2 separate regions of the Homo sapiens genome follow, and region 1 is linked to region 2. Evidence: fine-mapped expression QTL. A gene starts in region 2. The other region holds a variant in brackets. All regions are shown on one strand. Distances are between the middles of the regions.

Region 1 (5,000 bases), 25 kb after region 2:
GATTCCGGATGAAAACAATTATTTTTTTGAGATGGAGTTTCATTCTTGTTGCCCAGGCTGGAGTGCAATGGTACAATCTTGGCTCACTGCAACCTCAGGCTCCCAGGTTCAAGTGATTCTCCTGCCTCAGCCTCCCAAGTAGCTGAGATTACAGGCATGCACCACCATGCCCGGCTAATTTTTGTATTTTAGTAGAGACAGGCTTTCACCATGTTGGTCAGGCTGGTCTTGAACTCCTGACCTCAGGCCATCCACCTGCCTCAGCTTCCCAAAGTGCTGGGATTACAGGCGTAAGCCACTGCACCCGGCCAAAATGTTTTATATATATTTGGGCATTTATATTCCTAACCATAAGTATGCCATGTGCACACTATCAATACACACACACACGTAATTTAATGATAGATGCCACTGGAAGTAGGAAATGTGTAGACATATATCTGTAACTGCATAGAGCACTAGATAGATAGATATTATATAGATAAAAATAGACATTGTTACAACTGTTTAAGGTTATATCATATACCAAGTTATTACCGGATGGCAATTGGCAATGATGTCTATATCTGTAGATACACAGAGATATCTATGTATCTATATAAAGTACCCATCTATCTATTGTTTTAATCCATTTCAAAGGCTACACACACACATAATTGCTCACATGCATGTATGTGGCTAGATAATCGTATGACAGATGTAATCTTATTTTCAGATGTTCAATTTTGAGATAGTCTACATAAAATGTTTGTATTACTTATCATTCCCAGAATAAGTATATCTAACTTATCTGAAATGTGCTTAATGTAACTAAGGGTATAAAATGAAACGAAAATAGATAATAATGGAAAACACTGTTAAAACAAATAAATAACAACTCCATGCCAGCAACCGAGTTGAGTAATAAAAGCATCCCTTCCCTTCTGAAGGAGAGTGAGGTTTATGTAACTCACCCCAGAGTCAATGGATTCTGGGGTTTTACTAGGGGAGAGAAAGCTTATTTAAGGAGTTTCTTTCTTGATCTGCACATACACAACTTTCTCTCTAATGATATTGCTTACTTGTGGCCAGACTTTGTTTTCCAACTTCTCATGAATGAGTGTCTTCTTTTCCCTGGGCTTTTCTTTGTTCTTGTGTCCAAAATCCCATCGCAACCAGCTCTGATCACTGGGGCTATGCCATTCCTAACTTTAGTTTCTTCTACAAAAGGAGATGGTTGGTGAGACAAGTTGGGGGTCCCCTCGGCATACCCTTTCTGTGATTATCCTGTACATTAGGAACTGCAGGGACGTGGAAAGCTTAAGTCTCAGTTCCTCCACTGAAAGCATTTTTATGGTGCTGTTAGGAGGCACGGGGTGGGGAGGCCACTAGTAGAGGCTAATTAGCAACACAGCATGGTGTGTGATGCCCAGGCAAGTGACTGAGACAGGGATACCAGGAACTCGGAGGAAATCCTCAAGGAAGGCGTCCTGGAAACAGGAAAGTGAGGCTTTTAAGCTAAATTTAGAATTAGAACCCAGGTCTCCTGGTTAGTGATTCACACTGCCCCCCACATCAGCTTAACATCACCTTTGGGACAAGTAGGAGCTGATGGAGACATTCCAGGGTGGCTCTGTGGTCATTTCTGTGGCCTCATGGGAGGGGGCCAGGCGCAGAAGCTCTGACTGTTCCTGAGGATCTTGTCACCCCTCCCTTCCTCTCCCCTTTTCTGAACCTTCTCAGAAAGCCAAGGGAGCTGATAGTTACTCCCTACACCATTCCCTACAGCTGATGGTTGGGGGAGCCAGCCCTGGAGGGCATGAGGACAGGGAGTCCCAAGCACTAGCTCCAGCCCTACCACCCAATTGCTGTGAGGCTTGCGCAAGGCAATTTATCCTCCTGGTCCCAAGTTTCTTCATATGTGAAATATAAGGGTTGGCCTAGGACTAGATGATTTCTTAAGTCCTTTGCCAGCTTAAATGTTTAAATTCTCGGGAGCTTCAGCCCACTCCACTTTCTATAAGGGAGCTAGCCCTCCCAAGGGAGCCCTGCTGTTCCTTCCTCCTTGAATCCCATGCAGGGGAGAGCTAAACCAAGAGCCAGTTTCTGCCTGGCGTGAAATTACTAAGCTATTCTTATAAGGGCAACCGGAGTTTGGACAGAAAACCTCTGACATGAATCTTTGTATGTTACCAAAAAGTGTTGAAAGCTTTAGAACCGTGCCCAGATTTGCCTAAAGTAATAGAATGTGAGAATCAAGGGAGATTAAGCATTAGAAGTGCTTAGTAATAGTAACAGCAGCAACTAATAATTTGTTGAGCAGTTGTTGTGTGCCAGGTACTGTTATAAGTGCTTAGATTTCATCTTCACAAATGACGTAGGCATTGTTATTTTCATCCCCAATTTATTTTTCATGGATGAGAAAACAAAGGCCCCGAGAGAAGTAACTTGTCTAAGGGTAAACACCGGGAGACATGTAGACATTCTAAGCGCATAACATTATGTAAGTTCCTTGCCTTTGCTACACCTCAATTTCCCACTTGTAAAACAAAGGGCCAGATCAGGGGACCTCAGTGACATTTTCTAGGCCTTTCTTTTAATCAGATTCACAGCAGCCAGTGGGGTAAATTTTTTTCTAAGCCACTCTGCTCGTGCCAATGGTTTGGCTTAAGAGTCACGCAGTTCCGGAGTATTCACTCTCTTCAGAGTGAGGACACTTTT[C/T]GGGGGAGCTTAGTTTGGGATGCTTCTTTGAGATGTCCTCCTTCGGGTCCACTGCAAAGGAAGTCTCTGGAGCCTATTCAGCCACCGAGCAGCAGCCGAATGATTTGGAACAGTTTAGCCAAAGTTATCTTGACTTTTCTGGCTTGTTTTCTTCATTCATTTGGCTTGATCCCCCAATTTCTAGAGTCATAGATCTGACTCTACCTGTAGACTTTGCAGAACTCTGAGGTAGAAGGTGCCTAGAGACTGCCCAGCCCTGCCAGGGAGGTGAAGTCAGGCAGTGCCTCCAGCTGTCAGCACCCACACCTCAGCCAAGCCCCTGGCTCCTCATGCAATCTCTCCACGGCCTCTGCCTCTGAATACCTGCTTCCACTAATCCTGAACTGGCTCCTAGGCCCTTAGTGAGGAAGTGACAGAGAGTGGTTTCAGCCCAGAAACAACTCAATTCAGCAAACATGATTCCATGCACATCTGCACTGGACTCCGGGCACCAAGAGGAACAAGATGCAGGAACTGTGCTGGAGGAGGGTTTTTGTTTGTTTGTTTTGTTTTATAACTAGGCCTTAGAGACTGAATAGACGAGTTTACAGCTGCATTAAAAGCTTGGCAATTATGGAGTAGCAATGAAATCAATGAATTATTTGCAAGAGTCAGAGACAGCACAGAGGTATTATTGGCACTCTCTTGGCGTGTCAGGAAAGGCTTTTTTGGCAGAGGTAGTATCTGAACAAACTTTGGGAGGACAAATGGGAGTTTACCTACAGAAGGGCAGGGTTTGGGGCCACTTTCTAGGCAAGGTCTCCTAACTCTGTGATTTCAAAGGTAAGCATAGCTCAGTTGGTGTCTGTAGAGCAGTGTTTTATAAACGTCAAAGACTGCATGAGAATTAATTTGTGTGGGGAAAGATGAGAGCAGCGGAAATCTGCACTTTTTAATAAATGCCTTGGATAGTTCTGATGCCCGCAGCCTGTCCTCTCCTGAGCTTATGCTCCTGAAACCCTCAGGAAAGGAGTGGAGCCCGAGGTTGGGGGGTGGGAGACAGCGTGGCACACAACCAGAAACCCACACCGGAATTTCCACATGGCGCCACTGGGCATTGGAAAGATGCACATCCCAAATATTTCTGTGTAACTGAAGTGGCTGGCTTTTGCATGAGGGAGGAACCAGGATGCAGTTGTTATCTGCTCTGCCTTAAATTCCTGCCTTGCAAGCAAGTATTAAAATACAGCTACTTATCAATTTTTTTTTTTTAACCAGCCTGCCCTTCCCCTTGGGTGCTCTGCCAGGAGCAAATTGAGTGTGAAACTTGGTGTCCTTATTCACTTTCTCATCCCTCCCTTGCTCCTCTCACCCACCTGGGACCATCTTCCCACACTCCTTCCCTTGCCTTCTCCTTGGTGAGTTCTAACCGATCATGAAGGCCTGTTCAAAAAGACTCCCTGGATCCTGGAGATCATTTTTATGATGCCCTTTTAAAAATAATTATAAAAAAATTCAAAATACATACAGAAATAAAAATCATTTCTGATCTTATTCACATATCTTCAACACTTGGTAGTTTTCCATTCATCTTTTCTCTCTGAGTTATTGTTATTTACAGAATTGGGATGATACATTTTCCAAGGCATGAGTAGAAGACGGAGCATATAATAGACACATCCCACTTTTTCCCACACCTCGAAACCAATCACTTCACCATTAGTTTTAGTCATGTGTTTTTTACTAAACATTATATCATGAGCATTCTCCCTATGTCATTAAAAAATCTTCAAAAATAAGATCATTTCAAATACGTCGTAAGTGCATCATATTCTCTTATATGGAATGGAACCTATGTAAAGTCAGGTTACATAAAATGGAATCTACTGTTAACCTGTTTCCCTTTTTTAACCCCAGCTGCCTGGATTCAAATCCCACTCTGCTTAATTACTCACTGTAAGACCTTCTCAAGTCACTTAACTTCCCTGAACCTCAGTTTCCAGAGTTGTTGAATGGGGAATAATAATCATTTCTGTCTTTTAGGGTGTTGTAAGGATTAAATAAGTTAATATATGCAATAACACAGGACTCAACTTTCTGTGTTAACACTGTGTTAGCTATGATCATCCAACTTACATATATTTTCTAATTATAGAAGTAATGAGTAATTGACATGATAGAAAATAAAAACATTATAGAAATAAGTAACATAAAACTTAGTTTGTATGCACTATATATATAACACATACACCAAACTGTTAATGGTGGATATCTAAGAAAATAGAATTATTGTAGACTTTCTCCAATGTTTTATGTATAAT
Region 2 (5,460 bases):
AGAAGAGTGAAACTCCCATCTCAAAAAAAAAAAAAAATCCCCCATCTTAGGAGTTGTCAAGAGACATGTGTCGTGCTGGAAAGGGCTGGATGATTTCTCAGAAGATTCTCTGTCTCTACACATGTTGTGAAATCTTCAGCAACCCTAAATCCCTTAATTAGAGGGAGAGAAAAGGCAAGTGATCAATTGGCTTCTTTTAAAAGCCCATATCTGCATGCTTCGTCTTCACTGCGGTCTGAGGCGCAGAGTGTGGCCAAGCAGGAATTTCATCCTGTGTGTAGCTGGGTGGCTCCACCTATGAATTGAAAATCATTTAGCTGAAATTGTGACACAGCTGCAAATTACAGTCTGCCTGCAGGCTGGGGCTGTGGCTGCGGCCATGGTGCAATCCTCCAGTACCCAACATTAAGTAACTCAGGGCAGACTCTTACTGGGGCCCTACTGCTGGTCAGTTGCAAAGACTACAGGCAGCTTGGCTGGAGGAGCTGTGGAGGGTAGAAGGGAAGCTGGCTGTGTAACACTAGCCTGTCTACAGAGGAGCATCATACCCGCAATGTCACCATGGCTTTCAGCCTCATGACAGCCCTGGAAGGTGTGTGCATCATGCTGATGAGGATACCGAGGGCCAAAGAAGTAAAAGAATTCAGCCAACATCACACAGTGGACAAGTTCCAAAGCCTGGCTTTGAATCCAGGTCTTTTGACTCCAACTCAGGGGTCTTTTTACTACATTACTCTGGGATCAAGACCAGCTACAGACCCTCCTAGAGAAGACCAGGTGGTCAGTGGTCGGACACCACTGTCCAAACCCGTGGGACCCCTTGCAAAACCTGTGGCACTCGGGGCCTTTCAGGCTAATAATATGATTTTTTTTTTTTTTTTGAGACAAGGTCTCACTCTGCCACCCAGGCTGGAGTGCAGTGGTGCGATTTCGGCTCACTGCAACCTCCACCTCCCGGATTCAAGTGATTCTCGTGCCTCAGACTCCCGAGTAGCTAGGATTATAGGCACGCACCATCATGCCTGGCTAATTTTTGTATTTTTAGTACAGACAGGGTTTTACCATGTTCCCCAGGCTGGTCTCAAACTCCTGACCTCAAGGTCCCACCTCGGCCTCCCAAAGTGCTGGGATTACAGAAGCGAGCCACCGCACCCGGCCAGGCTAATAATATAATATTATTAATACTAACTTTTTACACTGGGCTGTGCCCAGCGCCGTGCTGAACCTTTTACACTTGCTGTCTCCTTTGATTCTCAGAGCAATTCCACTCAGTTTTACAGTTGAGGAAACAAAGCCTACGAGAGGTGAGGAGACTTGGCAGAGCCAAGACTGTGTGTCTTCAGGTTCCCTTTTAAGGGGAGCACCACCTCCCTGTCACCTCTGCAGCTTTCCTTGTCAGGTCATTGAAAGGAGTGCCCGGGGTCTGATTTTCCTTGGCTCCCAGGCCAACAGCAACAACCACAATAATAAGCAAAACCCCTCCTTTCCTTTAGACCACACACAGAAGCATACAGAGCACTTTCACACCCATTCATCCCATGCCATTCATGGAGCTGTCCTCCAGCTTTCTGGCAGGATGAACTTGGCGTCATGAGGCCTCGCCCAGAGTCACAGCTAGTGCCCGTGGTAGGAGCCAAGACCACACATGAGTCTCCTCTTGGGTCCAGGCTCTTTCCATGTCCCTCTCTACCCTCTGCTCTTTTCTTAGTCATCTGCCAGAGCCAACAGTGCATCCCATTCTGCCTGGCATGGGTGCACAGCCAGCTGTCTTAGAGCCCCAGAGGCCTGGGAAAGGCTGCCTCATTTAGGCGCTGACCTCCAAGGTTAAGCAAACACAGGCTCTGGAGCCATTTACATATGGGTATGAATCTCGTGGTTGGAGACTCAGGTTAATCTCTCTGTCCCCCATAAGATGGAAATAATAATAGCCCCTTTGCATAGGGTTGCTATGAAGATGAGAAAAGCTAATATATGTAAAGTGTTTAGCCAGTGCCTGCCCACAGTAAACACTAAATCAATTAGTTATTATTAGTAAGCACTAAATCGGTAGTTATGATTCCCATCTTTACAGTGATATTGATTCACTTATTCAAGAATGTGCATGTTCCAGCCACGTGTCAAGCCCTGTGCTAGATTCTGAGAAGAAGATTTGAATGATATGCAACCTGTACCTTCAAGGAGCTCAGTCTGGAGATGGGGACATATATAAACAGATAGTTCCAGTGCAGTGGATACATACGGTAATAGAGGTTCTAAGATGTACAAAAGGCTGTAGGGGCCTAAAGGACGGAGAAAGGACACTGATTTCTCTTTTTCAATTTTCCAAGCCACCTGCCTATTCCGTCTTCTCTTTCTCGAGATCAAACATTCTCACTTCTCTCTAAAGACCCAACCTTGTCATCATGGTGCTCAATCTTCCTTCCACACTGTGATGCTGGGGAAAGCCTTGGGGCATTTCTGTTCTCTCGTGAATCCTTGAAGCCTCACTTTAAAAAATATATACTCACTCCTTTGTCCATCGTAAACCTTGATATTTGTAAATATCGATAATAGGAACTTTGAAAAAACATACGCCCTTAGAAACAAGCAAGCAAACAAAAACACGTAGAATGTCAGAGCTTCTCCCCACTCCACACCCTTTCTTTAAACTGATGTCAAGGTGGGCCCAGTGAGGGTCAGTGACGGAACCTGCAGTCTGAGAAAGACATGGCAGAAGCATAAGGTTAGAGGCTGTTCCTGCTGCCTCATTAAAAACAACAATTTTCCCCCAAATCTGGACTGAAACTGACATTCAACGCCAAGTGTGATCTCAGTTTAACCTGCCCTGGTAGATATGCATACACTTCCCATGCGCACCATCTCATGTGATCGTGTCCACAGCTTTGTGAGTTGAGAGGGGTGGGAGTGATTATCCCCAACCACAAGCAAGGCTTCCGGGCTTCAAGGGTTGGAGACCACCCAGGGCTCGGCCAGCATCAGAACCAACGGCTTCTAATTCCAAATCAAATGATGGTTTATGCCACACTACAACCCTAAACAAATGAACTGTGATGTGTCTCACTTCCCTGTGCAAGTGGAAGATGCTAATACATGTGTATCATGAGAAAGGACCTCACAATTTTCTTCTTCTGGGTTCTGCTGAGACGTTTCTTTGATTCAGAGAGAACTTCCCAGGATCAGCAAGAAAAGCATGTCATCATTTCCTAAACCCTACAATCCAGGAAATAGTCCATCATTTTATAAAATTATAAAAGCGAACTATTTGAGTTTCTTTATTATCTGCCCCCTTCTCCCCAAGCTGGTCTTGTACAAACATGATGCACGTCCATTGGGTGACAAGTCTGTCGTAAGTGAAACGTTTACAGGCACTACAGGAATGACCTGGTGCCTCGCCCACTTCATTAGAATTCTAATTGGGGTGTGTAGGAGAGGATTCTATAAATGGTAAGGCAATCCTTGGCAGCCTGTCTGTCAGCACTGTCCGTGCCATTCCCAGAGGAGCCTGAGAAGAGGCAGAGGAAGGCGAAACATGGCTGGTGAGTGCATGGCATCTTCTCCATCAGGTCCTTGCCAGAAGCCTGTGCTTCCCCTGGGCCAGCCTGCCAAGCCAGAGTGTCCGGCCAGGACAGCTGCCTGCCTTGGGGGCTCTGAAGGCCAGACTTCCTATTTTAGGGTGCTAGCCAGAGGCGGCTCTTTCTCAGTGGTGGTTGGGTCCCTCTAGCATATTCTTGGGGTAGAACATCATTGGAATGTAGCTCTGAATAATGGGCAGGGTGTTCAGTGCAGCTGGACATCGCATCTCCTTAGGCAGAGGACAAGCTTTGCCTTGTTTGTGTTTGCGTTTCTTTTACACATCCGTCGCCACCCGTAAAGCCAAAGCAGACAGGACTCGGGTCTCGTGTTTCTCAGTGTAGCTGTATCCAGCTGTCAGCAGTGTCAGCAAAGAAGCACATCTCAGAACTACCAGGGAGTGAGAGTGGTAACATGTAAGTTGATTTGAAAGAAACCATTGTTTATTTCAAATCAACTTACTTAGGAGCATTAGGAATGCTCCTAAGTAAGCTACACATCAGAAGCATCAGACAGGCTCTGTGTAAGTGACTTGATGAGCTGAAGCCTCCCCGTAGCAGGAGCAGGTGTGCCACAAGATGTCCTGGTCCACAGGAGAGCACCAGGGAACAGGGGTTACAAAGAACAACAGGAAGTGCAGGTTCCCCCACTCTATGCTTACTGTCGAGGATATGGGCCTTTGTTAATCAGCACCCCTGCTAAGCAGCATGCTAATTATTATCTGTCTTGTGTGCTCAGCCTAGTAGGTTGACAGGGACGCCAAATCCAAACAAGATATGAGTCAAACTTGTAAAATATTGTGAATGGCGATTAGGGCTGCTGGAAGATTGGCCAAAGACATCACTGAGCCAAATGCAACAGGCAAATGCTGGCTACTTCAGAAGCCACAAAAACTGGGACAGGTGATTGCACATTAGGCCCCCTCCCCTGTCTCCCATTCCTTGCTGTAATGTACAGCATGGCTGGGATGCTAAGAAGAGGAGCTCTGGACCCTACACACTGCAGCAAGAGGGGAGGTCAGATGTCATCTAGCCCATCTCCCTCCCTCCAGGAGGTGGCTGAGGCCCAGGAAGGGGTGGAACCTTACACACAGTGAATCCATCGCAGAGCCAGCTAGGTCTCAGCAGTGCCCTTTCCACCATGTCCTGCTGCCAGAGCTGAGCTCCTACATAAGTGCACATAACATCTGGAACATAAAAAAGCAATTCTGAACCTGGCTTCTCATTTGAGCTTTGTGACCAACTGCTTGTGTGTTCTCTGCCACCCCTGAGCCTCAAGTTTTCAAGATGAAAGCTTTGAAATGAATGCGTTTTGAGGTTCCTTCCAGTACCGACTTTTCTTTCTCCACAAAAAGAAACCAGAGCCAGGGAGTGGACAGGCACGTGCCCAGCCCCCAGGAATGTGCACCTCCCATCCCTGTGCAGGACCTCCCGTGGACTCTCAGGAATGGCCTGCCCGCTGTGAGGCATGATTAAATGTCTCTGTTAACAACCAGAGATGTTCTAAAGTCACAACAGAATGAGGCTGGTGGGGAGAAAATCAATTTTGAAAAGGTGGTGGAGAGACAGGCGAATACATTCAGTCCCTTAAATTTGTCCCACTTGCAGTTCCCAGCTCAGCTCCGAGTCACTCAGCCAGGAAGTTCCCAATCAGTGTTTCTTGGATGAATGAATTTATTCACTGAACACCTAAGGGAGAAGAGCTGTGCCAGGTGCAGTGGGAAATATGGAGGTGAATGAGATGTGGTTCTGTCCTCGGTAGCTTTTAGTCTGATATTTTTTGGTACCACCGGTTTTTTAGGTGAGCAGCATGCAAGGCAGACTGTTATTAAGCTGCATGACAAATACAAAACAAGTGCTACGGGGACCAACAAGAGAAGGAGATTAGTCT

Evidence for each region. PIP is the estimated chance that this variant, and not a neighbour inherited with it, causes the effect. A credible set is the group of variants that fine-mapping cannot tell apart.
Region 1: its variant is the best candidate, but not a certain one, in a credible set for the expression of TGM3 in whole blood (TOPMed, PIP 0.50).

The regions. Positions count from the first base shown.
Region 1 is chr20:2,318,009-2,323,008 of GRCh38, forward strand. The region is part of intron 7 of TGM3 (transglutaminase 3); the gene reads left to right. Among named protein-coding and RNA genes, the nearest start is that of TGM3, 25 kb to the left of the region's middle. The variant C/T (reference allele first, on the strand shown) is at 2,701.
Region 2 is chr20:2,292,535-2,297,994 of GRCh38, forward strand. TGM3 (transglutaminase 3) reads left to right here and starts at 3,467. Exons shown (of 13, transcript NM_003245.4): 1 at 3,467-3,536. The coding sequence starts at 3,530. LOC105372503 (a long non-coding RNA gene) reads right to left here. Exons shown (of 3, transcript XR_937203.3): 2 at 4,658-4,756; 3 at 3,287-3,960. RefSeq lists enhancers at 4,171-4,704, 4,705-5,237.